3 linked regions of the Homo sapiens genome follow. The protein of the gene in region 1 purifies or fractionates together with the protein of each later gene. This does not show direct contact. Each region holds a gene or a part of one and is shown in the gene's direction. Other genes may lie near its edges. The genes, in order: CHORDC1, EDRF1 and TTC4.

What was found.
Region 2: the proteins of CHORDC1 (region 1) and EDRF1 purify together in Homo sapiens (affinity purification with mass spectrometry; 3 studies listed by BioGRID and IntAct, with this or other methods). This does not show direct contact.
Region 3: the proteins of CHORDC1 (region 1) and TTC4 purify together in Homo sapiens (affinity purification with mass spectrometry; 2 studies listed by BioGRID and IntAct, with this or other methods). This does not show direct contact.

Annotation. Positions count from the first base shown.
Region 1 is NC_000011.10:90,211,368-90,221,914, reverse strand, and holds part of CHORDC1 (cysteine and histidine-rich domain-containing protein 1), read left to right. Parts: intron 1-3,730; coding exon 3,731-3,780; intron 3,781-6,684; coding exon 6,685-6,741; intron 6,742-7,739; coding exon 7,740-7,897; intron 7,898-8,494; exon of another isoform or gene 8,495-8,559; intron 8,560-10,547. UniProt on the Homo sapiens protein: Regulates centrosome duplication, probably by inhibiting the kinase activity of ROCK2. Proposed to act as co-chaperone for HSP90. May play a role in the regulation of NOD1 via a HSP90 chaperone complex. In vitro, has intrinsic chaperone activity.
Region 2 is NC_000010.11:125,735,124-125,745,670, forward strand, and holds part of EDRF1 (erythroid differentiation-related factor 1), read left to right. Parts: intron 1-520; coding exon 521-781; intron 782-2,794; coding exon 2,795-2,866; intron 2,867-3,171; coding exon 3,172-3,322; intron 3,323-5,339; coding exon 5,340-5,528; intron 5,529-5,877; coding exon 5,878-6,078; intron 6,079-7,096; coding exon of another isoform or gene 7,097-7,116; exon of another isoform or gene 7,117-7,791; intron 7,792-7,934; coding exon 7,935-8,153; intron 8,154-9,603; exon of another isoform or gene 9,604-9,728; intron 9,729-10,415; exon of another isoform or gene 10,416-10,547. UniProt on the Homo sapiens protein: Transcription factor involved in erythroid differentiation. Involved in transcriptional activation of the globin gene.
Region 3 is NC_000001.11:54,732,861-54,739,860, forward strand, and holds part of TTC4 (tetratricopeptide repeat protein 4), read left to right. Parts: intron 1-768; coding exon 769-850; intron 851-4,721; coding exon 4,722-4,804; intron 4,805-7,000.

The DNA of each region.
Region 1 (10,547 bases):
TATTAATAACATCCTTCATTATTGTGGAGGAGATGAAAACTGATGCCTTTTGAACTCTTCACCTCTGAGATGTTTGAAATACTTATTTTTGGCACACAGGTAAATTGATAGCGTTATTTAAAATAAGACCATTGATACAGAGTTTTAAGGAAAAGGAAAATCCAACCTATGCAATACTCAAGTTACCGCCACTGACATTTTTATGATGCAAATATGATGCTACTCATGAGGAAAATTGTGAGATTTCAGTCGATGACAAAATCGAGAAACGATTTTAAAGCCCTTTGGTGTTGGCAGCCTATGTAAAACATTAATTGCACTTATGTCTGCAGATATTCTACTTTAATATAGAATACAGGGGAAAGACTGACGCTTTGCTTATGAGACAATAAAGTTCAGGGGCGATAGTCATTTGTTGGAAGTCTGTATCCATGTGTGAATTGGTGCAGTGCCTAGGAAACAGAAAGCGACCAGGAAAACCGTCTCAAAACTTGGGTGGTCAGCAGTACTAGTTACAGCAGAGAAATTCCAATAAGTATATTTACTTTAGCGAAATGACGGTTTTTTTAGAGACTTAGAATACATTTTTCAAGTAAACTGATTGAGTGAATGGAAGGAGAAGAAAATGGAGATACGGAGTAGGAGACAAGAACTAAATAGAAAGGTTGGTTAGGAGGTTTTTTAGGAAGAGGTTTGACCTTGTACAGTTGACAGAAATAAGTTAAAAGAGGTAAATACACAAGCAAGTTCCATTTTGCGTAAGCCAGATGTTGGATCTGTCATCTTTAAATATTTCTTAATCTACACTAAATGCTTTTTTTCTCGGTGCTGTGGCATAATTACCGTGCTCGTTGACTTATAGTCTCATGATTTTTTTTTCCCCCTAGAGACAGAAATTAGACTCCCTTTTAAGCTGATAGAACGTTTTAACTTGTAACTGAAGTTAAAGGGTGTTTAAGGGAGACACAGTTGGTAACTTACATATGTTAAACACTTATTCTAGAATAAACACAGCTTCACAAACGGTATTTTTTTTAATCGACGTATACGAGGAAAACTGAAGGAACTACTAGCGAGTAGCTCAGTGAGAAATTTAGCCAGGGTCAGACCCAATGTTAGAAGCCCTGGACACTTAACCACTGCTACTGTCTTGTAGCTTCTCACCCATAAAATATTAATTTTGCCAAAACTCTTAAAACTGATAAAGAAAGGATGGATATTAAAGAAAGAATGAAGAATGTCCATTTGCTTGTTACTTCTTGTTTTTGAAAGCAGTGGCTTTCTAATTGTGTTCATGTTAGTTGTATGGTTCAGATCTGACTCATTCCTGCTGCCATGCTGCCAAAATTGACTTATTGTGACATTTTATGCCTCTGACTCTGTTATACATTGCGTTTATGTTTCTGACTACTTTAAATTTGGTGTTTGAAAATACTGGATCTATTCTCTACTTCCATTCCCCTCTCAACTTCATGTCCTTCTGCATACCCATTTCTACTTCCAACCTCCTTTTTCAGCCCTTAATTCCACAACTACCCTTAATTAATAACATCTTTCTGATCCCACGGATTTACTTACTGTATCAGGAAGATACCTAACACTTTCTACATTAGCTAGTATCTATGCAGCACATGGTTACTAAGGAAGCAATACTGGCTAGTAACGGGGTAGGGAGATTTCTGTGAGCACCAGTAGTAAATTTTGAGGCAACACCAGGAATCAGGTGATAGAGCAAGGGTGTTCAATCTTTTGGCTTCCCTGTGCGACATTGGAAGAAGAGGAATTATCTGGGCCACATTGGAAGAAGAATAATTGGGTCACATATGAAATACACTAACACTAATGATAGCTGATGAGCTTAAAAGAAAACAAAAACAAAATTCATAATGTTTTAAGACAGTTTACGAAATTTGTGTTGGGCTACATTCAGAGTTGTCTGGGGCGGCATGTTGGACAAGGTTGTTGTAGAGCATTGAAAGCTAAATAGACTTGAAAGGTTGAAAGATAGTCTTTTAAGCAGATTGCAGAGGGATGAAGCTGACTGTTACCTGATTTTTAAAAATATAGTACTCCATCTTGCAAATTGCTGAGAGCAGCTTGGTCGTGGAGACCCTAACCCGGTGGTGCTAGAGGAATTAAAGACACACACACAGAAATATATAGTAAGGAGTGGGAAATCAGGGGTCTCACAGCCTTAGAGCTGAGAGCCTCCAATGGAGATTTACTAAAAGTATTCCTTACGGGAAATAAAGGGATGGGCTCTGGCTAGTTATCTGCAGCATGAACATGTCCTTAAGGCACATATGGCTCATGCTATTGTTTGTGGTTTAAGAATGCCTTAAGTGTTTTTCCGCCCTGGGTGGGACAGTTGTTCCTTGCCCTCATTCAGGTAGACTCACAACCTTCTAGCCTGGGCATCAAAGCCGTCACGAGCATGTCACAGTGCTGCAGAGATTTTGTTGATGGCCAGTTTTGGGGCCAGTTTATGGCCAGATTTGGGGGCCTGTTCCCAACACAAATTGTAATAAACCCATTTACATAAGAGAAGTAAAGATTGATGGTGTAGTGGGGAGGGAAGTATAGAATAACACCCAGTGAGAATCTAGAAAATAGGCTGTAGAACTTGAGAGTTTTTTTTGTTTGTTTTTTTTAAGATGGAGTCTTGCTCTGTCACCTAGGCTGTAGTGCGGTGGCATGATCTTGACTCACTGCAAACTCTGCTTCCCAAGTTCAAGCGATTCTCCTGTCAAGATCCTGAGTAGCTGAGACTACAGGCATGCACTACCACGCCCGGCTAATTTTTGTATTTTTAGTAGACACGGGGTTTCACCATGTTGGTTAGGCTGGTCTCGTACTCCTGACCTCAGGTGATCTGCCTACCTCAGCCTCCCAAAGTGCTGGGATTACAGGCATGAGCCACCAGGCCCACCTAGACTTCTATTTTTTTTTTTTTTTTTAATTAAAAAGTAAACTTTAATGTTGAAAATGCACACTTGGGGAAGGCAGAAAGATCACACACAAGGCTGTCACTTCACACTTGGAAGGTTGCACAGTGGCCAGGCAGAGGTGCTCCTCACTTTCCAGACAGGGCTGCCGCCAGGCAGAGGCACTCCTCAGTTCCCAGACTGGGCGGGGGCAGGGCAGAGGAGCTCCTCACTTCCCAAACAGGGCAGGGGCCAGGCAGAGGCACCCTAGTCTTCTTTTTAGTGAGGTTTGTACCTAGGAATGACTGTGTCTAGGAAAGTTAAATTACCAATTAGATACTGCAAAAAATCTTTACAGTATTTAAAATGTTGAGCCTGTTATTACAAAATGTCTTTAAGGGAATCTCTTGTGAAACCTTTATGGATGAATGCACATAAGAATACTTCAAGTTTGATAGTACATTTGTAAAAGCAGGTTTGAAAAATGATGGTCAAAATTTGGGGGTTTGAAGTTTTGGTACTAAACAAATTTTACTACCAAGATTAGGGGAATATAAAATATAATTGTTATACATAAACAATTCTGTATTTTTGTCCTTAGTCATCATATGCTTGAATTAGAATTTTTAATACTATTTTAATATAGTACACTTTGTGCTGCACGTCAAACTCAATCATTTGTACCTTTTTAAGGTACTTGCGTTTGGAAAAAGGATTAAAGGTTAACACCTTAAGGAGATGATCATGTATATATTTTTCTTCATTATAAAGAGTGGTACTTTTTTTTTTTTCTCTGTTTTCTCCAGATGCTTGCACATACCACCCAGGTGTTCCGGTCTTTCACGATGCATTAAAGGTAGGAACTATATTTTCATTTTTTTCATATCTGTGTAGTAAATTGAGAGATGTAATACTAAATCTTTATTTTCTCATCTTTTTTTCTCAGCTAGTGACTTTCTTCTTAATGACCTTTGCGGGGGAGGTGCTTTAAGCGTATACTCCACTAAAGACAAAGAAAAGACAGTAGATGATGATCTTAAGGTCTTTTCCAGTTATAAAATTGTATTTTAATTCTGGGTTTTTTTTTTTTTTTTTGAGATGGAGTTTCACTGTGTTGCCCAGGTGGAGTGCAGTGGTGCGATCTCAGCTCACTGCAACGTCCGCCTCCTGGGTTCAAGCGATTCTGCCTCAGCCTCCTGAGGAGCCGGGATTACAGGCACCTGCCACCATGCCCAGCTAATTTTTGTATTTTTAGTGGAGACAGGGTTTCATCATATTGGTCAGGCTGGTCTCGAACTCCTGACCTCAGATGATCCACCTGCCTCAGCCTCCCAAAGTGCTGGGATTACCATGCCTGGTCTTAATTTTCATTTTCTACACCCATTTCTTCACTTTTCTAATTTTGAGGGAAAATAGAGTGGTTGTATTGAATCTCAGTCTGTCACTACTGGCTAATAACAGCTCTGAATTTTAGAAAAGATTCTTATAAACATTTAGTGCCAATCTCGGGACAGACCTGTGAGTTTTCCAGCTATACTTCTTGGATGTTCTGGAGAATTGGTGGAATGTTGTTTGACTAGGTTTTTGCTGGTCATCTTTTTAAAATTCATGATAGTATGATACATTTAAAGAGTTTCCTTTGTATATCTCAAAAGATGATGCTGTGGTAGGGCTGCCATGGTTTTAGGTTCTACTTCTTTGGTTCTCAGGAACATAAGCAGTCTTAACATGTTTAAATATTGTTGGTGCCCTTTAAATGTCTAATTATACCTTCCAAAGAGTAGTTAGACTGTTTTGGCACTTCACTGTTAACACCACCAAATCTAACAAAAGATGTATTAGTCTGGTTAGTTCTGAGTGAGGAAAACAGAGAAGACATTCAGTAGGGCAAGTTGAGACCTTATTCCTCCATACATTTTTTTAGTTTTTACAAATCTTTGTTGTGGTGGAAACTGTGGTGCTGTGGAAATGTTTATTTTTCTTTTTGTGGAATTTTATTTTTCCTAGACTGCCATTTCTTCTGATATTTTTGTTTTACTGTGTCTTTTTCTTTTTTTCCCTATGCTGTTTTCCTCTTAGCTCTTAAAGGTAACCTTTGGCTGTTTTCTCTCATTCAGTTCATTCATTGGTTTTCTCAAATGTCACCTCTACGCCGATGGCTCTTACAACATATTTCTATTTATGTGTCTCATTGGCAACATCAAACCAGTTTCTAGTGTGTACCGTTTATTCCAAAAGTAGTCTGCCTCTCAACTTTACTGCTCCTAGTAATGATACTACTGACTTTCTGATCATTTGGTCCATTGCCCGTTTTTTCTCTTACCGCATTGTTAATCACTCCAAGTCTTAATGAATTCACTTTGAAGTATTTTTGCTTCTCTCTCTTTTGCAGTTGTAGTGTTTATTGTGGTCTCTATTTTATAACCATTTCTTAAAGTCCTAGACTTTCCAAGATTATTGGATTTCACAGTCCAGAAGATTTCAGACAAAATGCGTATACATCAATACAGGGATACTAGTTGACCAAGTAAGAAGTTAAACATTGCATTGACAAAAGAAATACTATTTTAATATTAGAAGGGGCATATTCAGAGAAAAGGACAATCTTGCTGAAAAAAGACAACTAGCAACCTTATATTCACATAACTTAAATTTATCTTTCCTTTTCTCATTGTACTGAAGACTAGCATAGAATCCAGATTGGCATTTGGGAACAGCTGGCCTGTATTGTATTTTACATGTGTGTATCACAGTATCTGACATAATTTAGTACATGATTAAGACAGTAAAACTTTTTCTCTTATAGAATAACTTTTCTGTTGACTATATTATTGATGCTATTTAAACCCTATATTTAAGGTTGTAGTAATTGATCTACATCTCAATTCGGAGTAAAAGATAATTAAATTTCAAATTAAAGGAAAATTTGAATTATAGGATATTTGAAATTACCTTTAAAGAAAAAGAACCTACAGGTGCATATAATGAGAAAAATCACTACCATATTTTTATGCAGTCTTTTGAAAATCAGCGAGGTCCAGGCGGATGTGTGCAAAGTTGCATCTTAATCTGAATTTAGTCCCAAATCTTAATCTGAAGTTCCAAGTTTTGAGATTTTGCATTTTTGTTTCCCTATGCTCTATAAACATTGGAATTTAGAGATAATTATTAAAGCCATTTTTTGGTAAACTACTTGATAGTTTGTTCAAAAATCACAAATACTAATAGTTTCTCTGTCTTTATGCTTCTCACTGAAAAGATCACCTTCAAAGGCTTAATAGTGCTTTAGCTGCTGTGTTAATTAATCTTTGTTGTTCTGAAAATAGAATGCTTATTGTGAAATTAAAATTAACTAAAGATAGTTACTATCTTTAACTTAATAGATTTTAAAAGTAAAATACCTATACTTATTTTGAATATTCTTTAAATATGATAGTTTTAGGAATTATAACATGTTTTTCTTCTAAAAAAAAAGCAGACACGATTGTTGAAAAGAGAAACAGTTTTTGTTTTATAAAGGTGCTTCCCTTGATGATAGGGCATAGCACAAATCACTTTAACATTGGTTAATTGGCTTTTTAAAAATCAAAGATTAATATTCATTTTACTTGATTAGGTGAATTATATGCAACACTGAAATTTTGCACTCTATACGCAAGTTACTGCAGGATTCAAGTAGATAAGTGCAAGTAGAGTGTTTTAGTGGGTCGTGTTTCTCATGCAAATAGAGTTTTTAGTTTCCTTCTCTTGTTTTTCATAGGGTTGGTCTTGCTGTAAGAGAAGAACAACTGATTTTTCTGATTTCTTAAGCATTGTAGTAAGTACTAATTATTTTTTCTAGATTATCTTCCTAAAAATACATGTTATAGAAAGCTTCAGATTTGAGGAGTCTGATTTCTGATATAGATTGATTGGTCTTCATCAACTTGCAGATAACACCTTTCAAAAAGCAGCTCATCTCCCTTCCACAGCTTGTAAAATAAAGAATCTGTTTTGGAAATTAACGTTTTAAGGTATCAGTTACCTGCTTATCATTTTAGGTTTGTTCTTTCTGTTATGTTGAAAGAACATCAAGGAGAAAGTGGTAAGCAACAATTTAAAGCCTTTTCAGTTAGGAACGATAAAGTTTTATCTAAGATGCTGTTGAAATATTTTACATACCACTTTTATATAAAACCACTTTATATACCACTAAGAAAACTAAAGCTACTAACAAACTGATAATGCTATTGATTGTATCATTTCAGAGGTGTTAAAGAGTATGTATAATTCAGTAGAATGTAGTAGAAAAGTAGCTAACGTTTGTTGAATGTTATCACCTGCCAAATGTGCCAGGCATTTTATTATTTAACTCTCTCAGAAAATATCTTACCTGACATTACCTCCATTTTACAAATGAGGAGATGGAGGTTTAAAAAGATTATCTTGCTTAAGGTCATATAACTAATAAGTATGTTGAGAACTAGGTCTCAAATTGAGGCCTTTCGAGTAACAGATTTTTCTGTATAACTATTTTTTACAGTTCTTTGTGAGATTCTCCAGAATTCTTCTGTAAACAAGAGGTTTATGCCATATTTTTAATAGAATAAGTAGATGTTTATGAAGTGTAATTCAAAGACTTTTTAAAAAAGCCGTCATTCAGAGATTCAGCAAATATGGCAAATTTGGAGTTCTGTTTTTAATTTCTTAAAATCAATGTATTGAAACTGGAGAAAACATGAAATAGAATCACTATCAATAAAGAACTGAAAAGATAATATTTCTATCATGAAATGTAAAATAGATAGCTCTTAATGAATTATCTTTCACTAACAGGGCTGTACAAAAGGTAGACATAATAGTGAGAAGCCACCTGAGCCAGTCAAACCTGAAGTCAAGACTACTGAGAAGAAGGAGCTATGTGAATTAAAACCCAAATTTCAGGAACACATCATTCAAGCCCCTAAGCCAGTAGAAGCAATAAAAAGACCAAGGTATACTTTATACAGTTACATATTTTTGTCACACTTGAATAGTAGCACTTGTGCATGGTACTTTCCTTTATGATTTAGCATGATACCATTTGTAGCTACTATGTAGGCCACCAAGCTTTGAACCATTTGGTTTCTCCCTTAAATCTGCCTTAAATTTTTATTTCTCTTCAACTTGAGAGCATGTACACAATATAACTACATAACAGATTTGCATATTGTACTGTCATAATTACAGGGACATGTATCATCAGGGTAGGGAAGTCACATTTTTCTTGTGCCTTAGAGTGCATCTTTTTCACTGTGGCATGGTAAAATTCTTTGAAGCAGTTTTCCTTTTCATGGCATGAGTTTGAAGTAGAAAATAATGCAGAGGCCTAATCATCCATCTTTACTTTCAGATGCCTGAAAACTACCGTTAATCTCATTACTACTGGTCAATTTTTAATGCATTTGATTTAGATGACATATTTGTGAAAGTAGTCTTAAAAAAGCGTTTGCTCATTGTGCAATAGAGTTGTACAGATTCTTCATACTTGCCTTCTGATAACCAGACTCTGTATTCCCACACATGTATATTGAGTACCTTTGTTGAACCAGGTCTTCTTCGTGCTACACTTGAGTACTAAATTGTTTTAGAAGCAAACTACAGGACTTAAAAAAAGGTGATTTTTTTTTTTTTTTTTGGCTGCAAGTAGGCACTTATTGTAATTTTTATTCATGCTATGAACTCATGATTTTCCCTTTATTCTCCTTTGATCCTACTTAAATAAATTTATAGAGTATTGAATAATATAGAACCAAGATAAGAACCCTAAGAGACTTTAGATGTTTATTTGTTCATTAGCACTCTGAGTACAGATTATTGCTAAGGAAACTACTCAGGATGATTTTATTCTCTCTCCATCTTCATAGTTAGAGGAGACCATTGAATGCTTTGGCCAGTTTAGCAGTTAGAAAAATAATTGGGAAAAGACAAAACTTCAGTCATGGCTCATTCTTAATCTCTTTAGTAATATAATACAGTCTGTACTATAATAGTATGAGTTAATTTTTTCTTTAAATGATGGGCTGTTATTTTACTTAAAGGGCAGTGAGAGGCCAGGCACTGTGGCTCAAGCCCATAATCCAGCACTTTGAGAAGCCTAGGAGGGAGGATCCTTTGAGCCTAGGAGTTTGAGAACCAATCTGAAAGAGATCCTGTCTCTCCAAAAAAAATAAATTAGCTGGGTTTGGTGGTGTGCTCATGTAGTTGCAGCTACTCAGGCTGAGGCAGGAGGATCTTGAGATTGACTTTTTGAAAAAAAAGGACAAAGGCAGTGAGATGAGAAAAACTAAATATTTTATCCTAAATTCATTTGGTGGTATTATAACAATTATGAGGATATCAGTTTTTACATACTTTTCTTTTTTTTAAGAAGAAAAGTCCCTCTCTTACCCAGGCTGTAATGCAGTGGCATTATAGCTCACTGCAGCCTTTAACTCCTGGGCTCAAGCCATCCTCCTCCCTAACCCTCCCCGGAACTATAGGTGTATGCTACTATGACTGTATTAGTCCATTTTCACAGTTACGAAGAAACACCCGAGACTAAGTGATTTATAAAGAAAAAGAGGTTTAATGAACTCACAGTTCCATATGGCTGGGGAGGCCTCACAATCATGGCAGAAGGTAGAGCGAGTAATAAAGGAATGTTTTACATGGTGGCAGGCAAGAAAAAAACCATCAGAACTTCTGAGACTTATTCACTATCATGAGAACAGCATGGGAAAAAGGCATCCCCATGATCCAGTTACCTCCCACTAGGTCTGTCACACACCATGTGGAGATTAGGGGAGCTAGAATTCAAGATGAGATTTGGTTGGTGACACAGGGAAACCATATCAGTGACCGACTAATATTTTTTATTATTTTGCGGAGACAGGGTTCCACTTTGTTGCCCAGGCTTCAAGCAGTCCTCTTGCCTCAGCCTCCCAAAGTGTTGGGATTATGGGCATAAGCGACCATGCCTTGCCTATGTACTTTTAAAATGCCTCTTTTGTCAGTTTTTTCATCGAGGATATAGAATGAATAGCCTACGATTTTTATTTTTATTGCTGTGTTTATTAATATGTTTAATACTTATTTATTGAGTGGACTTAAATTATGTATACAACACTTAGCCATTATGAAATGTTAGAAGATGTTGTTTTTTAAACCCTACTGAAATTGCCTTGCAATACGATCGTATCTGAATTTACAGATCCATATGCCAGTGTCCACATAAATTATCTCCACTGGTAGAAGTGAGTATGGATTCACTTAGAACTTACTTATATTTCATGTTTATTATGTGCTCAGCATTGAGCTTGGGCATGGGATGTAAAAGTACATTATGGTCCCTTCCTCAGCATTACTCATCTTGAAAACCTTGGATTCCTAGTCTTTATTCCTTTCTCGTTAGTGCAACTGATTAATACTTAAATATGCTGACAATAGCGTGATTATTTGAGACTTACTATTCTAATATAAGGAGCTTTTCTGTTAAGACAGAATGTAGATACATTGTAACAATTATTTATAAAATACCTTTTAACCTTTTAATGGGAATCATTTGATACACAAAGCATTTGGCTTCTCAGAAAGCTTTTAAGGTTATTAATTTGGAGTACAAAG
Region 2 (10,547 bases), on another chromosome or scaffold:
GGTTAAATGGTCATATATAAATGCTAATTTTAAGAGATATCAGAATGGACTTTTCCCTTTTTAATGTAATGGTTTTTTTTTTCTAGAACCATAGATTATATGATAAATATTAGTTACCTATTATAGAGAAACTTGAATTAATTTATAGTTTGTAAAGAAAAATTCTGGTTTCTCACTTGGCATAGGGTGGTATTAAATTTTTGTTAATATTTTAGTTATGACACTCTGTACTCAAAAGCTTTTGTTTGTCTCCAGTGAAATTCAGTTGACACCTTTTAAGAGGGAGGGCTCAGGGTGGAGTAATTTCGGGAAATAGGAAATGCATCAGCCTATAAAGATTTTGCAGAGCATACCCAGAGTATCAGTAGCTTTGAACTGGGAACATTTCTGTGTGTGTTACAGTCTATATGGTGGAAACAGCCTGTGTGCAGACCTCCTCCTAAAATTCGTTAGTATGGTAGTAAAATTCATGTATTTTTTGATGACAGTAATTTACACATATTTCTCTCTTTTTCATAAGATTATTGCTTCCGCCAATTACATGCTTTCAGAACTTTTTCAATTGGATGAACCTAAAAAGGAAGAAAATTCAGAATCTCCTTTAAATGAGAATTCTGATGAAAGTTATAGTGAAGAGGAGGAAGAGATGCCCGACAGTGATGAAAATGGATCCTATAGCACCAGCTCTGATCCATCAGATGATAGCAAAGCAGTAGCTATAATCAAGTCTGTTGGAGAACTATCAGTACCAGAAAAATACAAATCTATTCATCAAATCAGAGTAAGCCTTTAGAATTTATATTAAATTTTTATCAAGGAAACATAATTGTTAATCGAATATAGTTAGCCTTTCAAAAGATACCATTACTTCAATAAACCTTTCATGGTCTAGCATCTAGTAATCATTAGTTTTCTGAATTCTTAAAGTTGGTTTTATAATTGTTCGAGGGTAACTGACCCACATTATGCAAGCCTATAGTGGACAGGTGTGTAAACCAGGTGTCTGTCTATTCTTATGTGAAGGATTTTCCTTTCCAGTGACCAGTGTGTAGTCATAGTCATGTCTCATTACTAGGGCACTTCTATCCGGTGTTGGGGTTGCTGGGAAATGACATATATAGATTGCTTGGTGAACATAGAGTAGAGAAGGGGGTGGCTCTTGGAACTGTATATGGTGAGCTCTGGTACATTATCCCTGTGCTATATAGGACAGTACTTTTTTCGTGACTCTTGTGGTCATGTCTGTTGTATTGGACATGTCTCTGCCCTGGAGAGGGCCAGACAGATTTCTCCCTGTGTGGATTGCACTGACTCTACCATCAGTGTATCTCCAGGCAGTATATACCTTTCAACATACCGTCTCCCTATGATTAGATCCAGGCCAGCCTTAAGAGTTCTGGCTGTTCCCTGAACTGAAATACAGTCGTATTTACAGATAATCTCTTAATTTAAGCACTGAGTGTAACTTTCAGATGGAAACTCTAAGCAAGTTTTTGAGGGGCTATGTCTGTCACCTTAAAACATTGACCATCTTTCTGACCTTCACTTGCTCCATTGGTTTGCCGTGGCCATGCTGGGTTTTTTTTCTCTCAAAAGCATCAAGATTATGCTCATTGGAGGGTCTTTGTATTTGCTGTTGCTTCTGCTTGGAATGTACCTACCCTAGGTCTGTTCATGGCTGCCTTTTTTAAGGCTTAAGTCTTGACTGAAATGTTGCCTCTTCAGGGAGATGTTCCCTGACCACTCTGGCCAAAGCATGCTCTACTTTTTTGTCCTTCAAGGAGCCTATCTGTTCCTGAAGTTCTTAATGTTTGTCTTGCTTCACTAGAACGTAAGCTCCCTGCAGGTACAGACCCTCTATCTCCCATGTCTAGAACACATTATGGGTGCTCAGTAAATATTTGACTAAATGACTGCAGGAAAAAGTCATTAACTGTCCATCTAAATTTTAGTTCACTTTCAGCTTGAACTTCCACAGTGGAGTGAAAAAATGTTCTGGTTATAATCATTGATTGCAAAAGTTACATGTATCTGGAAAACTGCATTGTAACACTAGGCCATGGACTTACGGGGCAATTAGGTAATAATTAAAGATGTAATGAGTTAGTGTCACTATTTTTCACAGATAGCACTTTCTGTTCCGTATCTGAAGCACTCAAAAAATGCAGTCTTAGTATTCATATAAACATGTCTTTAGTTAGCCTTTCCTTATCCTCATTGAATGACTTTGTGGTATGGACAGTCAGCATGAGCTCCAGGGTCCCAGCTCCCCACTCACTCACCGTGTCCTCAGACAAATTGCTAAACTGTCTGTGCATGCTTCTCTTCTGTGCAATGAGAACAGTAATTCCAACCCCACGGGATTCAGCGAAATGAAATGCTTCACAGAAGCCCCTACACATAATATCCTTCATAGTTGGAGGTTGCTAGCTGCTTTTGCTCCTTAATTAAGCAAATAAATTAAACAACGAGAATATTGGTGATACTTGTTATTTCTAAATTGACGCTAATTGTTAATTGTGTTTTGTCCAGTATCGGTGCTAATTATGAGTGGAGCTGACCTATTAGATGATGTCTATATTTGTCTAAAACATTACTACTCTAGTTCTTGCTTTTTTGTCATAATAGAATTGTATTTAAAATTGTAAGTACTTAAAGCAACATATATGTTGTAGGATCTTTTTAAGCAAGATTTTTGTTGATAATGCTTACAGTAATTTAATCTTCAACAAAAACAATATGTTGACCTTAATACATTGGTAGTGTATTAATAATTTTATGTTTGTTCCTCAAGCCCAGTTGTGCATTTCCAGTTTGCCATGACACAGAAGAGCGCTGTAGACTTGTGCTTAGCTATGTTCTAGAGGTAAGTTTAAGTTTAGTCTTCACTTTTTTCGTAAAGTTTGTACTTGATTATGCAAATTACACTTGTTTGTTGGTATCTAAATGTTATTCTGAATTGTGTTCTGCTGCGATTTTTTTTTCCTTAAGCATAAAGTGAAAATCAGATTTGTTTTTCCCAAATCTTTCAGATCAAACATAGTTTTTGAAAGTCTGTTTGTGAGATGGAAATTTTCCTAAACGTATTCAGTAGTCCAGATACTGTCTTATATTTAGTTTTCAGTTGACCTGAAGTTAGATAGATAGTGAATGCTTTTCCTTTTTTTGCAGGGTTTAAAATCTGTCGATAGCAGCATCAAAAAAGAAAGCGACCTTCCAGCAGCTGACCCCAGCACTCCAATCCCGTTAAAATATGAAGATGAATCCTCAAGAGGGGGTCCCGAGGGGCTAGAGAAGCAGATGGCCTTGTTTTTGGACAAAAGTAAGTTGAATTGATGTGCAAATAAGGCCTTCAATAGAATAATACACTGGTTCTTTATCAACAGCAGACTTATGTCAATTAAGGCATTAATTGAAAGGCATTGAGAAAAAGATATCCTGTGAACTGGAATTAGGGGTAGTATTCTTTCATTTGAAATATAAAAAGGATAATTTTGATGTTTCATGGACATTTCTAATAAGAGCATAAGGAGCCTGCATCTTCCTGTTACCCACAGTGGGGAACTAATGCTTCAGCCTGGTGGAGTTCTCGCTGGATCGTGTAGGAGCCACAGACTTAGCCAGACTGCCTAACTTCATATCTTGGCTTTGCGAGGGCAAGTTGCTCCACTTCTTTGAGTCACTTTTTATCTCTTTCAAAATGGAGACGATAATAATGGTTTCTTTAAAGGGTTGTTAAATGATTAAATGATTAATATATGTAAAGTGCTCAGAACAGTGTACATAATAAGCACTATAGAAGTGTAGGCTGTTGTTACTGCACAGTACTTGAATAAGCTACAAATGTCACTTTTAAATTATCTAGTTCTTCAGGAATATAACATCATGAAGAATATATGGACTTCGAAGCAGAAGTTGTGAATTTCTTATTTTAACCTAAGTTGTATTTCTTTTTCCAACCTTATTTCTTTCCCCCTTTTAAATCAGTTTCAATTGTTTAAAAAAAAAAAAAGTGTAGAAAGCCTGTATGTTTGAAGTACATCTGAATCATAGTGGAAGCGCTTTCTGGACCCTTCTTCTTTTCCTGAACAAACATGGTGGAGGTAGGAGAGGAATAGATTTATTTCCCCAGCATTTATATAGTGCTGCTGGTATGCCAGGCTTCGGCCTACAGGCAGTAAGGAGATCACACCAGGACTTTTGCCATTCTTTTTTTCTGAAATGCCTTTTCTGTCTCCTTCTCCATCTCCCCTGTTGAAAATCCTGCTCAAGCTCAGAATCTCCATGTTTCCCTCTGTTCTCCATCAGAATTACTTGATTCTCTTACCACTTTGTCCTGTGAGCCTGCCTTATGTCAGAGTTCCAGCATTAAATGGTTTTACACACACATGCACACACACGGTTGTGAACAAGAACTTCATCTTAATTTTAGTTTCTCACAATGCCTCTTACTCACAGATGATGCTTATATCAGCAGAGGAAAAAAATCCATACACACATTAAACCATAATGAAGACTAAGTACCTTTCATTGCCTTGAAAGACTTGTGTTCTAGCTGATTAAAAAATGAGAAACCTTCAGGCTGGGGGAAGGGGTGGGTGTTTTTGTTATTTGCAGAGCAAAATTTTCCACAGTATTTTGTTCTTTGTCTGTTAATTACACTTAACATATTTTGTTGTGGTTTATGTTATCAAGGATAGAGGCCATATAACTTCATGTCACAGTTTCCAGTGCCTGGCACAGTACTTGGCAGAAAAATGATCATTTGTTGAGTAAAGAAGGTAGCGATGGGCTGGACTTTAAATAAAGAGTATTCCTTGTAGAGGAAACAGTAAACTAAGATGGGAGATAGGAAAAACAGGCATGTTTATAGGTGACAAGCAGTAACTTAACATTGGCTGATGGGTAGTAGGATGGACAAGTAGGAAGTGAGACTGAGAAACATGCAACTAGCTAAGTGGGGAGAAGCCGTTTTCATGTTTGAGGACAGGCTTTCACGCTGATCTAAGCTGTGCTTTAGGAAGGTAAACTTTGACAGGTTGACACATAGACTGGAAAAAGGAGACAGGTGTCACTCATGAGGTTAGCTATGTCAGTGACACTGGAAGAGAATGACAGAGTTGCCGATGTCAGGGAAGCAGAAGGCCTTAGAACTCCCAAGTGAGAGTCTTTTAACACGGCCATTTCACTCCAGTGTATTTAAGCAGTAAAGCATAGTATTTACCAGTCTTGTCACCTAAGTCTAGAGTGTTTCCATCAAGAAACAGAAAATATTTTTTGTGCATGAGACTTACAGTCAAATGAAATGTGCTGTCTTTTTTTTTCTCTCCATGTCACAGTGGGCTCCCTTCAGAAGGGCAATTATTCCAGTCAATCTGGAATGATCCCTGGCTCTTGGCAACATAAAATGAAACTTCAGCTGATTCTCAAGTCATCAAAGGCCTATTATGTTTTGTCCGATGCTGCCATGAGTCTTCAGAAATACGGAAGAGCATTACGATACATTAAATTAGCTTTGCAAAGCCATGGTAAGCCACTATAAATGAATATGTTTAATAGGCACTGGGAAGAGAGAACAGAGAAGGCATCTGAATCACAGTGGAAGTTTACTCCTATTTTTCTAGTAAATCTTTATTTTAAAATGACTGTTTCCAATCCTGTGTGTGTTACCTTCTATTTTAGTTTCTGCTCAGTGGTTTAACATCTCTTTGCTTTGAACTACATGAAGCCGTAATATGTATTGTTGGACCTAAAATAAACAGAATAGATACAGTGCTACAAAGCGTTCAGCTGGTAACACAGTTTCTTCATATTTCCTATGATCATTAATTTTTTTCTGCATTTGTGTTTTTTCTTCTTCCCTCCCTTTCTAAACAGATACTTATTGCTGCCTCTGCACCAATATGCTTTCCGAAGTGCTGTTGTTTCTCTCTCAATATTTGACACTTTGTGGTGATATCCAACTAATGCTGGCCCAGAATGCAAATAATAGAGCAGCACACCTTGAAGAGTTTCATTACCAAACAAAAGAAGACCAGGAGATCCTGCATAGCCTTCACAGAGAGTCCAGTTGCCAAGGTGTGCCACAGGCTTGGACCACGTGGTTCACAGTGGGACTGTGCAGTCTAGCTCATGCTTATTTGAGTATTCAGAAAAGGGGTAGAAATATTAGAGTTTTGATATTTGCTCTGTATTTATTTATTTATTTTTTGAGACGGAGTTTCGCTCTTGTTGCCCAAGCTGGAGTGCAATGGTGCAATCTTGGCTCACTGAAACCTCCGCCTCCCGGGTTCAAGCAATTCTCCTGCCTCAGCCTCCCAAGTAGCTGGAATTACAGGCATGCGCCACCATGCCCGGCTAGCCCACCTTGGCCTCCCAAGGTGCTGGGATTACAGGTGTGAGCCACCACGCCTGGCCTGCTGTTTTATTCATTTCCTAATTTTAAGATTAAGCATGATCTTGTGTATTTGTATAAAATGGTTTTTAAGTATTTTATAATTACTGTTTATATAACTAGAACTAAATATAAAGTAAGATATGAAGACAGTTGTGTCAACTTTTTATTTTATTTTATTTATTTATTTTTTTGAGACACAGTCTCGCTCTGCCACACAGGCTGGAGTGCAGTGGGGCAGTCTTGGCTCACTGCAACCTCCACCTCCTGGGTTCAAGTGATCCTCCCATCTCAGTCTCCCAAGTAGCTGGGACTAGTACATGCGCCACCACACCTAGCTAATTTTTGTATTTTTGTTAGAGACAGGGTTTCACCACGTTGCCCCAGACTGGTCTCAAACTCCTCAACTCAAGCGATCCTCCCACCTTGGCCTCCCAAAGTGCTGGGATTACAGGCACGAGCCACTGCACCCAGCCTTGTGTCAGCTTTTTACACTCTTCTTTTCATGAGGTTCTTCTAGGTAACACTTGTAGTCAGCTAACAAAGCCATAGGTTTCCTTTTGAAAGGTATAACAGTTGGTGAAGGAGGTTAATTAACCTTCTGAATGATTCCTTGGGGCTGAAATAAAGTGATCATTGTTTTTAAAGTTAGTTCATAGCCACCTGTCTTGCTTAATATGTCACTCTGTTTGGAATTGTCAGGCTTTAAAACTGGGAAGTAGAATAATCTGATCCGCAGCAGCGATATCCCTCCCTCTTACCTCAGCACAGTGTGTAACCACGCTGCCATTAACACAGTGAATGAAGTAAAAGATGAGTCTTCTGAAGGTGCTTCTGTAATGTCTCATGGGGTTGTTTTATTATGCTCTTAAATTGTTATACTGAATATTACTTGATGTTTGCCTCCCAGAGTTTTAGACAATTCATAGCTAGAGGAGTATACTGGGGGAGAGGGAAAAATGTGTTATTTTGTAATAGTTTTGCCCTTTCTTCCCCTCTCTCCGTCTTTCTCAAATAATCATGTTTTAATGTAGTAGGAAAGTCCTTGGTGTATTTTTACTACTCCCATCATAGCAATTTCAGTTAAATATTCTTTTTACTCTAGTCCCCACTAGATGGCATTTTTAATCTTCGAGGGCTTCTGTAGCAGCCTCTTCAGTGACTTAAAGTTAATATTGGGACATTATTTCAAGAACTATTTCCATTAGTTAAAAATAGCAACTTTACTTTGTATTAGTGGACAACTTTAGGTCCATTCTAATAAACAAGTGTACCTGGGAAAACCTGGGTCACAGAAATTGTTTGATATTCATAGGCAGGAAAATATTTTTATCCAACATTAATATCCCAAGAAATATAATTTTATAAATAAATAGATCTTTATTATGAAACTTAAATATTGTTGTATTGATTGAATCTTGGTATACTTACACTATATTGCATTTTTTATTACTTAGAATTTAGAATCTCAGGTTCATTTGGATACTGAGGAAGAAGGAATCACATGATTCGCATTGATGTATCCCTTTTTTCTTTTCAGGATTTGCATGGGCAACTGATTTGTCTACAGACTTAGAAAGTCAACTCTCTGTTAGTTGTAAATGTTATGAGGCTGCTAATGAAATCTTGCAGTTTAGTGACTTGAAAAGCCAAAATCCAGAACACTATGTACAAGTATTAAAGAGAATGGGTAACATTAGAAATGAAATTGGTGTGTTTTACATGAATCAGGCTGCTGCATTACAGAGTGAGAGACTAGGTGAGTATCTCTTTAGATTCCTCTCTATTGCTTGTTCTCTCAGAAAATTATGCTAATTTTGTATGAGTCAAGCAAAGAACTGTGGCACTTGATTTTATATCATAAAGAGGTGCTCTATTAGAGAACCTCTTATTATTCTTAAGAAATAGAATTAGGAACACATGATTTTCCCTTGGAATGAATTATTTCAATGTTCTTCATTCTTACTTTTGTACTCACTCCATCTGATCAATTCAGAAGCAAATGGGACATCCAGCCATGTGCCAGGCTCTATGTTGGATATGTAACTGGCTAAAATATGGTTCTCTCTTCATGTTGGGAAGCTAGATAGGAACACAAAGCCTCAAAATGCTGTGGATGAGTACCGACGAAGTATAATGGGAGACTGGGGAAATAAGACATTTATGGAGGTTATAAGTTAGAAGGCTTTTGGGAAAGTGTTGTTGAGCAGGGTGATGCAGGATGTGTAGAGCATCAGCCGGCAAATGTGAGGAAAGGAGGGCACTCCAGACCAAGGAGGCGGTGTGAGGAAGAAGCCAGGGATCTCAAAGGGTGCAAGTGTACGTTTAGAGGGAGCAAGAGGCCTGTGTGAGGAAGATGTGGGATAGTGGGTAAGTAAGATGTGGGATGGCGTAGTAAGATGTGGGATGGTGTAAGTAAGATGTGAGATGGTAAACCATTTGGGCCCATGTTGAATTTGAGTTCACTATGGAACATGTATGTGAAAGGTATAATTTGTAGTCAATTTGAAGTGTGCTAAGAGCTGTAGGGCTAGTGAGACAGACTGAGAACCATTCACATAAAGGTAATAGTTGAAGCCGTGAGAATAGATAAGAATGTAAAGCCTGGACACAGGGACAGAACAGAAAGGGGCTGAGGTAGAACTGAGGTGAGCAGGTAAGCTGAACATCTGTGGGCCTTTGGTTTTGGTTTTGGTTGTTTCTTTTTTTTTTTTTTTTTGAGACAGGGTTTTACTCTGTCGCGCAGGCTAGAATGCAGTGGCATAATCATAGCTTGCCACAGCCTCGAACTCCTGGGCTCAAGCAATCCTCTCACCTCGGCCTCCCAAGTAATTTTTAAAAATTTTTTTAGAGATGAAGTCTTGCTGGGTTGCCCAGGCTGGTCTCGGACTCCTGGCCTCAGGCAGTCCTCACGCTTTGGCTTCCCAAAGTTCTGGGATTACAGGCATGAGCCACTGCACCCAGCCTGTGTGCCTGTTGATCTGTGAATAATGCTTGGCACTTAGGGATACAAATGTTGCCCTCAAAGAGTTCATTGCTAGTGGGAGAACCTGTGCATTTACGGTGCATCTGGAGGGGGCAGTCAGTGAGGGAGCCTGGAAAGTGGTAGTCAGGAAGCTAGGGAAATTGGATACAACACAGGTTGTAATCTCTTCAGACTCCATGGGGACCACGCTTTTGGATCTTCACAAAATGGCACTTTGCTCAGATGTTTTTCTTTGCTTATTTTAATATCATTTGGTTAATAGTGAAGAGGGTTATACTTAAGTGTTGTACAGTAGACCCCACTTATCCTTGGAGGATGCGTTCCAAGATCCCCAGTGGATGCCTGAAACTGGAGAGTTTTTCAGTGCTTTTTCCTATACATACATACCTGCGATGAAGTTTAATTTACAAATTAGGCACAGTAAGAGATTAACAGCATTTACAACAGTATGGCAGCATCGTTACTCTTGTGCTTTGGGACATTAAGTCAAAATAAGGGTTACTTGTACAAAAGCACAGCAATATTGTAACAGTCATCTGATAACCCAGACAGCTACTAAGTGACTAATGGGTGGGCCGTGCATACAGCATGAATGTGCTGGACAAAGGGATGGTTCCCATCCTGGGTGAGGCAGAGCAGGATGGTGAGAGACTTCATCAAGCTATGTTAGTGAGCTGGGGCTGCTGTAATGAAATATCATAGACTAGGTGACATAATGAGAAATTTATTGTGTCATAGATCTGGAGACTGGAAGTTCAAGATCAAGGTGGCAGCAGCATTGGATTCCTCTCATGTTTCTACCTTGGCTTGCAGATAACCGCCTTGTCACCGTGTCCACACAGGGCCTTCTCTCTGTGCATAGCCCTGGAGTCCCTCCCTCTTTAAAAGGACACCAGTCATACTGGATTAGGATCCCACCCTTACAATCTCATTTAATCTTAATTACGTCTTTAAAGGACCTGTCCTAAATACAGTCACATTCTAAGGAACTAGGGGTTAGGGCTTCAACATATGAACTCATATGGACACGTTTACCTTCATGTAACAGGCATGGTGAGAGCAATGAGCCGTGGTTGACTGCAGGTGACTGGCTCGCCACCACACTCCTGTCACTGCCATCCTCCTCTTATCTCATCAAGAGACAGTGCTAAGGTTTACACTGATGTC
Region 3 (7,000 bases), on another chromosome or scaffold:
GGATCACTAGAGGCCAGGAGTTCAAGACCAGCCTGGCAAACATGGCAAAATCCCGTGCCTAATAAAAATATAAAAAATTAGCCGGGCATGGTGGTGCATGCCTGTAGTCCCAGCTGTCTGGGAGCCTGGGGCACGAGAATCACTTGAACCCAGAAGGTGAAGGTTGCAGTGAGCAGAGATTGTTCCACTGTACTCCACACTCCAGCCTTGGTGACAGAGCAAGACTTTGTCTCAAAAAAAAAAAGAAAAGAAAAGAAAAAAAGAAAATCCTGTCAGTCAGGTGCAGGGCTCACACCTGTAATCCCAATAACTTTGGGAGGCTGAGGCAGGAGGATAATTTGAGCCCAGGAGTTTGAGACCAGCCTGGGCAATATAGGGAGACCCCCATCTCTACAAAAAAAAGAAAAAAATTAGCCAGGCATGGTGGCATGTGCCTGTAGTCTCAGCTATGCAGGAGGCTAAGGTAGAGGAATTGCTTAAGCCCGGAAGTCGAGGCTACAGTGAGCTGTTATCATGCCACTGTACTCTAGCCAGGGTGACAGAGCGAGACCCTGTCTCAAAAAAAAAAAATAAAATAAAATAAAATAAAATTATGTCATAATAGGACAAGTGATACATATACACATTTGGGGTACTGCTGTCAAATGGGTTAAGCCTGCATTTCATGTTTTATACATTCTAGATAACTTTGAATTAGTGTCTGGGGACCGATGTGGGAAAATAGATCATGAGTTATTGATACCCAGAAAGTACATGTTTTATCCTTAGGTTTATTGATCATCTAATGGTGATGTTTGGTGAAACACCCTCTTGGGACCTAGAGCAAAAATATTGCCCTGATAATTTGGAGGTAAGAGAAGTTTTATTTCGTTCCTCTATGGAATTAATTTTTTTTTTTTTTTTTTTTTTTTTTGCGGCGGGGGAAGCAGTCTGCTTTATTTTTTTGAAAATTATAGTAAAATATACATGACATAATATTTACCATTTTAACCATTTTTAGGTATATAGGTCAGTGGCATTAAGTACATTCACATTGTTGTGCAACTATCACCACCAGCCATCTCCAAAACTTTTTCATCTTCCCAAATTGAAACTCTAAGTACTTCATATAAGTGGAATCATACAGTATTTGTCCTTTTATGTCTGGCTTATTTCACTTAGCATAATGTCTTCAAGGTTCATTACATATTGTATCATGTGTCAGAATTTCCTTTTTTTTTTAAATTTTTGAGACGGAGTCTCGCTGTTTCACCCAGGCTGGAGTGCAGTGGTGCGATCTTGGCTCACTGCAACCTCTGCCTCCCAGGTTCAAGCGATTCTCCTGCCTCAGCCTCCTGAGTAGCTGGGATTATAGACGCGTGCCACCACACCCAGCTAAGTTTTGTATTTTTAGTAGAGATGGGGTTTCACCATGTTGGCCAGGCTGGTCTCGAACTCCTGACCTCAAGTGATCCACTCACCTCCGCCTTTCAAAGTGCTGGGATTATAGGTGTGAGCCACCATGCCCAACCAGAATTGTTTTCCTTTTTATTTATTTTTATTTTTTGAGACAGAATCTCGCTCTGTCACCTAGGCTGGAGTGCTGTGGTGCAATCTCAGATCGTTGCAACCTTGCCTCTTGGTTCAAGTGATTTTCATGCCTCCGGTTCCCAGGTAGCTGGGATTACAGGCATGTGCCACCAAGCCTGGCTAATTTTGTTTGTATTTTTAGTAGAGATGGGGTTTTGCTATGTTGGCCAGGCTGGTCTTGAACTCCTGGCCTCAAGTGATCCGCCCTCCTTGGCCTCCAGAAGTGCTGGGATTACAGGTGTGAGCTACCGTGCCCAGCCAGAATTTCTTTCCTTTTTAAGGCTGAATAACATTCCATTGTTGGGATTTTTTAAATAAAAAATCACAATATCCAGTATAAAGAATTACCTTTTTCTAACATTTGAGAGTAGGATGCCAGCTGATGTCCCATTACCCCTGAATACTTTACTGTGTATTTCCTACACAAAAGGACATTTTTCTTTATAATACCCATATAGCTATCAAAGCAGGAAATTTACATTAATTCACTGTTACCATCTAACCCTCAGACTCCATTCAGGTTTCACAAATTCTTTATAGCAAAAGGGTTTTGTTCAGAATCACATACTGTATTTAGTGATCATGTCCCCTTAGTCTCCTTCAGTATGGAAGAGCTCCTCAGTCTTTCCTCCACTTTTTTTTTTTACTTAAAAAATTTTTATTCATATTTTTGTGATCCTGTGACTCAACTGCAGGACACTTTGAAGATTACAGACCACTTATTTTGTAGAATGTCTGTCAGTATGGGTTTGTCTCATGTTTCCTTCTGACTAGATTTGGATTATACATACTTGTTTGTTTGTTTTGAGATGGAGTTTTGCTCTTGTTGCCCAGGCTGAAGTGCAATGGTGTGATCTCGGCTCACTGCAGCCTCTGCCTCCAAGGTCCAAGCGATTCTCCTGCCTCAGCCTCCTGAGTAGCTGGGATTACAGCTACTCAGATACCACGCCCAGCTAATTTTTTGTATTTTTAATAGAGATGGGGTTTTGCCGTGTTGGCCAGGCTGGTCTCAAACTCCTGACCTCAAATGATCTGCCCGATTTGGCCTCCCAGAGTGCTAGGATTACAGGTGTGAGCCACCATGCCCGGCCTGGATTATGCATATTTGGCTGGAATATTACAGAAGTGATGCTGTATTCTCATTGCACCTATCAGATGGTACATAATCTCCATTTGTCCCATTACTCATGATGTTCACTCTGATCACCTGATTGAGGTGGGGTCTGCCAGCCTTCTCCACTGTACAGTTACTTTTTCTTTATGATTAATAAGTGTTTTATAGGGAGATGCTTTGAAATGGTGTAAATATCCCATTGCTCGTCAGATATTCAACATATTTATTTATATTGGTGGATTTATAGTTTCCTGTTTCATTTAATGAGTTTTAATCTGTTACTATGATTGTTTCTTTTATGCTCAGAATATCCCAGATTTGGCCAGTGGGAATCTCTTCAAATTTGTTTCTGTGTCCTTTTGACTTGTGTCTATTTTTTAAGTGGTTGCTTTCTTACATAGGATGTTCTAGGTTCAGATTGCGCTTTCCTTGCCCCAGCTCTGGAATTAGCTATTTTTTCCCAAGAAGCCCTGGTTCTTTCTAGTGAAGAATGGTATTTAGAAGCCGAGATCTCTGTGCAATAAGTGTATAAGTGTATCGATTAATACAATGGGGGTAGAGAGGCAAGCTTACTGCCTCAATGCCTTCTCAGTGCCACAGCTTGGGGGAGAAAGAGAGAGAAAGAAAGAAAGGAGAGAGAGAGAGAGAGAGAGAGAGAGAGAGAGAGAGAGAGAGAGAGAAGAGGAGAGGAGAGAGAAGAGAGGAGAGAGGAGAGAGAGAGAGAGAGACCATGAAGTCTCATTGGTATCTCCAACTCTTAATTCAACATCCACAGGATTTTTTCTCCCTTTCTATATTTGTAACAATGACTTTCTTCTTGTTCTTTTTTTGTTTTTGTTTTTTTGAGACAGAGTCTAGCTGTGTTGCCCAGGCTGGAGTGCGGTAGGGAGATCTTGGCTCACTGCCAAGATCAACCTCCTGGGCTCAAACAATCCTCCCACCTCAGTCTCCCAAGTAGCTGGGACCACAGGCGTTTGCCACCGTGCCCAACTAATTTTTGTATTTTTAGTAGAGATGAGGTTTCACCATGTTGCCCAGGCTGGTCTTGAATTCCTGGACTCAAGTGATCCACCTGCCTCAGCCTCCCAAGTGTTCAGATTACAGGCATAAGCCACCATGCCTGGCCTGACTTTATTATTCTTAATATAGTTATTTGTTTGATCAGTTCCCCTCCTGTCATCACCACTGGCCCCTCTCCTATGTGGAGCCTTCCTCACCCTACTTGGACTCTTGACTCCACATGTTACGCTGCTGCCCCAGCGTGGGCGTCTTTCTCACCCCGCACAGACTCTGACATCCCACACTGCTCAACGACCCTACATGGACATCCTCCTCATCCTGCTTGGGCTCTGACACCCTACAGCAGGCCACCCCCTGCCATGAGTGGTCACCCTCCTCACCCTAGTTGGGCCTGTAAACTCCATATTACTTGTCCCCATGCATGGATACCCTTTTCACCCCACATGGCCTCTGACACCCCACCTTGGACAGCCATCTTACAAGGGAGCACTTCTTCCCCTGCTCAGGCCTGCTGGCCCCCAGCATGGATGCTCTTCTTCACTGGTCCTGCTCTGACACCCCCGGGAGCTTCCTGTGCAGGCGTCTTCCTCACCCTGCTTGGGCTTTGACACCCTGCACAGACATCCTTCTCTCCTTCTTCAGGCTCTTTCCTTCTCTGAGCCACCATAGCTTTCTCCTCCACATACCTGATGGCTTTAGTCTGATTTGTTAGGGAAAGGAGGGCTACATAGGCCTGGCCTTGAGTCTTGATTCTTCTGTTTACCAGCAGGGTAATGTTGGCAAGTTGTTGTTCTTCTCTGAGCCTTGATTCTGTCTTTGGAAGATGGAACTGATAATAGCCTCTTTTACAGTGGCATGGCGGGGGGGTACTAAATGCAAAGCACCCAGCTACACAACCATATAAAGGAGGCATTCAACTACTAACCGTTGCCATCTTTTTAATTTTCCCTGGGCTTAGCCTCAACTAAGGCTGCCGAAGCCTTTATCTCTGACTCTTGCCCTTCTGTTAATCTTGCAGGTCTACTTTGAGGATGAGGACAGGGCAGAACTATACCGGGTGCCTGCCAAGAGCACCTTGCTACAGGTTCTACAGCACCAGAGGTGAGTCATCTCATGGCGCTGAGTAGATTGGGGAAGATGCTCAGTGTATTAGTCCATTTTCACACTGCTGATAAAGACATACCTGAGACTGGTCAGTTTATAAAGAAAAGAGGTTTAGTGGAGAACTCACAGTTCCACGTGGCTGGGGATGCCTCACAATCATGGCAGAAGGCAAGGAGGAGCAAGTCACCTCTTACGTGGATGGCGGAAGGCAAAAAGAGAGAGCTTGTGCAGGAAAACTCCCTTTTTTTTTGAGATGGAGTTTTGCTCTTGTCGCCCAGGCTGGAGTGCAATGGTGTGATCTCGGCTCACTGCAACCTCCACCTCCCAGGTTCAAGCAATTCTCCTGCCTCAGCCTCCTGAGTAGTTGGGATTATAGGCACCTGCCACCACGCCCGGCTAACTTTTGTATTTTTAGTAGAGACGGGGTTTCACCATGTTGGCCAGGCTGGTCTTGAACTCCTGACCTCAGGTAATCCACCTGCCTTGGCCTCCCAAAGTGCTGGGATTACAGGCATGAGCCACCACTCCCGGTCAAAAACTCCCATTTTTCAAAGCATCAGATCTCGTGAGACTTAGTCGCTATCACGAGAACAGCACAGGCAAGACATACCCCCATGATTCAGTCATCTCCCACCGGGTCCCTCCCACAACACATGGGAATCATGGGAGCTACAAGATGAGATTTGGTTGGGGATACAGAGCCAAACCATATCACTCAGGCACCATCCGAGGAGTAGAGCCAGGTTCTCATTCCGCTGCTGACTGATTGCCTCATACTCCCCTCCCTTCTGCCCTGAGCACAGAGCTGTGTGAGACAGCAGCCATGGAGACTGGCCGGGCCCATAAAACTCAGCCATTGGTCAAACAGGCTCCAGTGTGATGATAGCCCACTGCACCACAGCCATAACACTCCAGACCAGGGGAGATAAATAGGACTGGTCTTTGAAGGGAAAAGCTGCCTGGCTTTTTGTACATGAAGGCTGCTAGGATGGCCTTTTTTTTTTTTTTGAGACGACATCTCGCTCTGTCACCCAGGCTGGAGTGCAGTGGTGCGATCTTGGCTCACTGCAACCTCTACCTCACCCCCCAGGTTGAAGTGATTCTCCTGCCTCAGCTTCCTGAGTAGCTGGGATTACAGGCGCCTGCCACCATGCCTGGCTAATTTTTGTATTTTTAGTAGAGACGGGGTTTCACCATGTTGTCCAGGCTGGTCTCAAACTCCTGACCTCAGGTGATCCACTCACCTCGGTCTTCCAAAGTGCTGGGATTACAGGCGAGCCACTGCACCCGGCCAGCCTTCCTTTTCCTAATCGTACCTATACCTATGTCTCCTGATGCTCTTTCTTTTGTTTGCTTTTTCTTATTTTGAATTTTTTTTTTTTTAAATAGAGATGGGGTTTTACCATGTTGGCCAGGCTGGTCTTGAACTCCTGGGCTCAAGCAATCCACCCACCTCAGCCTCCGAAAGTGCTGAGATTACAGATGTGAGCCACCACACCCAGCCCCTAAAATTTTTTTTTAAATTATTTTTATAATAGAGACAGGGTATCTTCTCCAGGCTGGTCTTGAACTGGGTTCAAGCAGTCCTCCTGCCTCACCCTCCCAGGTAGCTGGAATATCAAGTGCATGCCAGTGACCCGGCTCCTGATACTGTCATATGAAGAAAGCATTGGCTCTTGAAGTCAGACCCATCATCATTTACTGGCTGTGTGACTCCAAGCACACGCTGCCTCTCTGGGACTGCCGCCTCATCTCTGGAATGGGAGTAATACATGCCTACACATTTCTCAAGTATTTGAGAGCCAATGACAGGATAGGAGTTGAAGTGCTGTTGTAAACTGCACAGGGCAGTCCTGCTATAGGAGGGCATCTTTGTCATTAGCAGTGGCAGCAAGTTGGATTTGGCAGTTGTCTCAGAGAAGCTGTGAGGTGTTCCTGGACTATAAGGGAAAGCCCTCAGCAGATTTGCAAATTGACTCTTGGACTACTTTTCCTTAAGCTTTGAGCAAAGCAAAGCAGAGAAAAGCAGATGCTTTTGCACTTAAGCTAAAAGAGCCCAATGTATTAGTGTAAAGAGAGTGGTTGGATGTGGTAGGAAATGAGGCTAGAAAGCTAAGTTAGGGCCATACACGAAGGCCTGAATGCCCTGCTAAGGAGCGTAAACTTTATCCTGATTGTGGTGTACACCAGGGT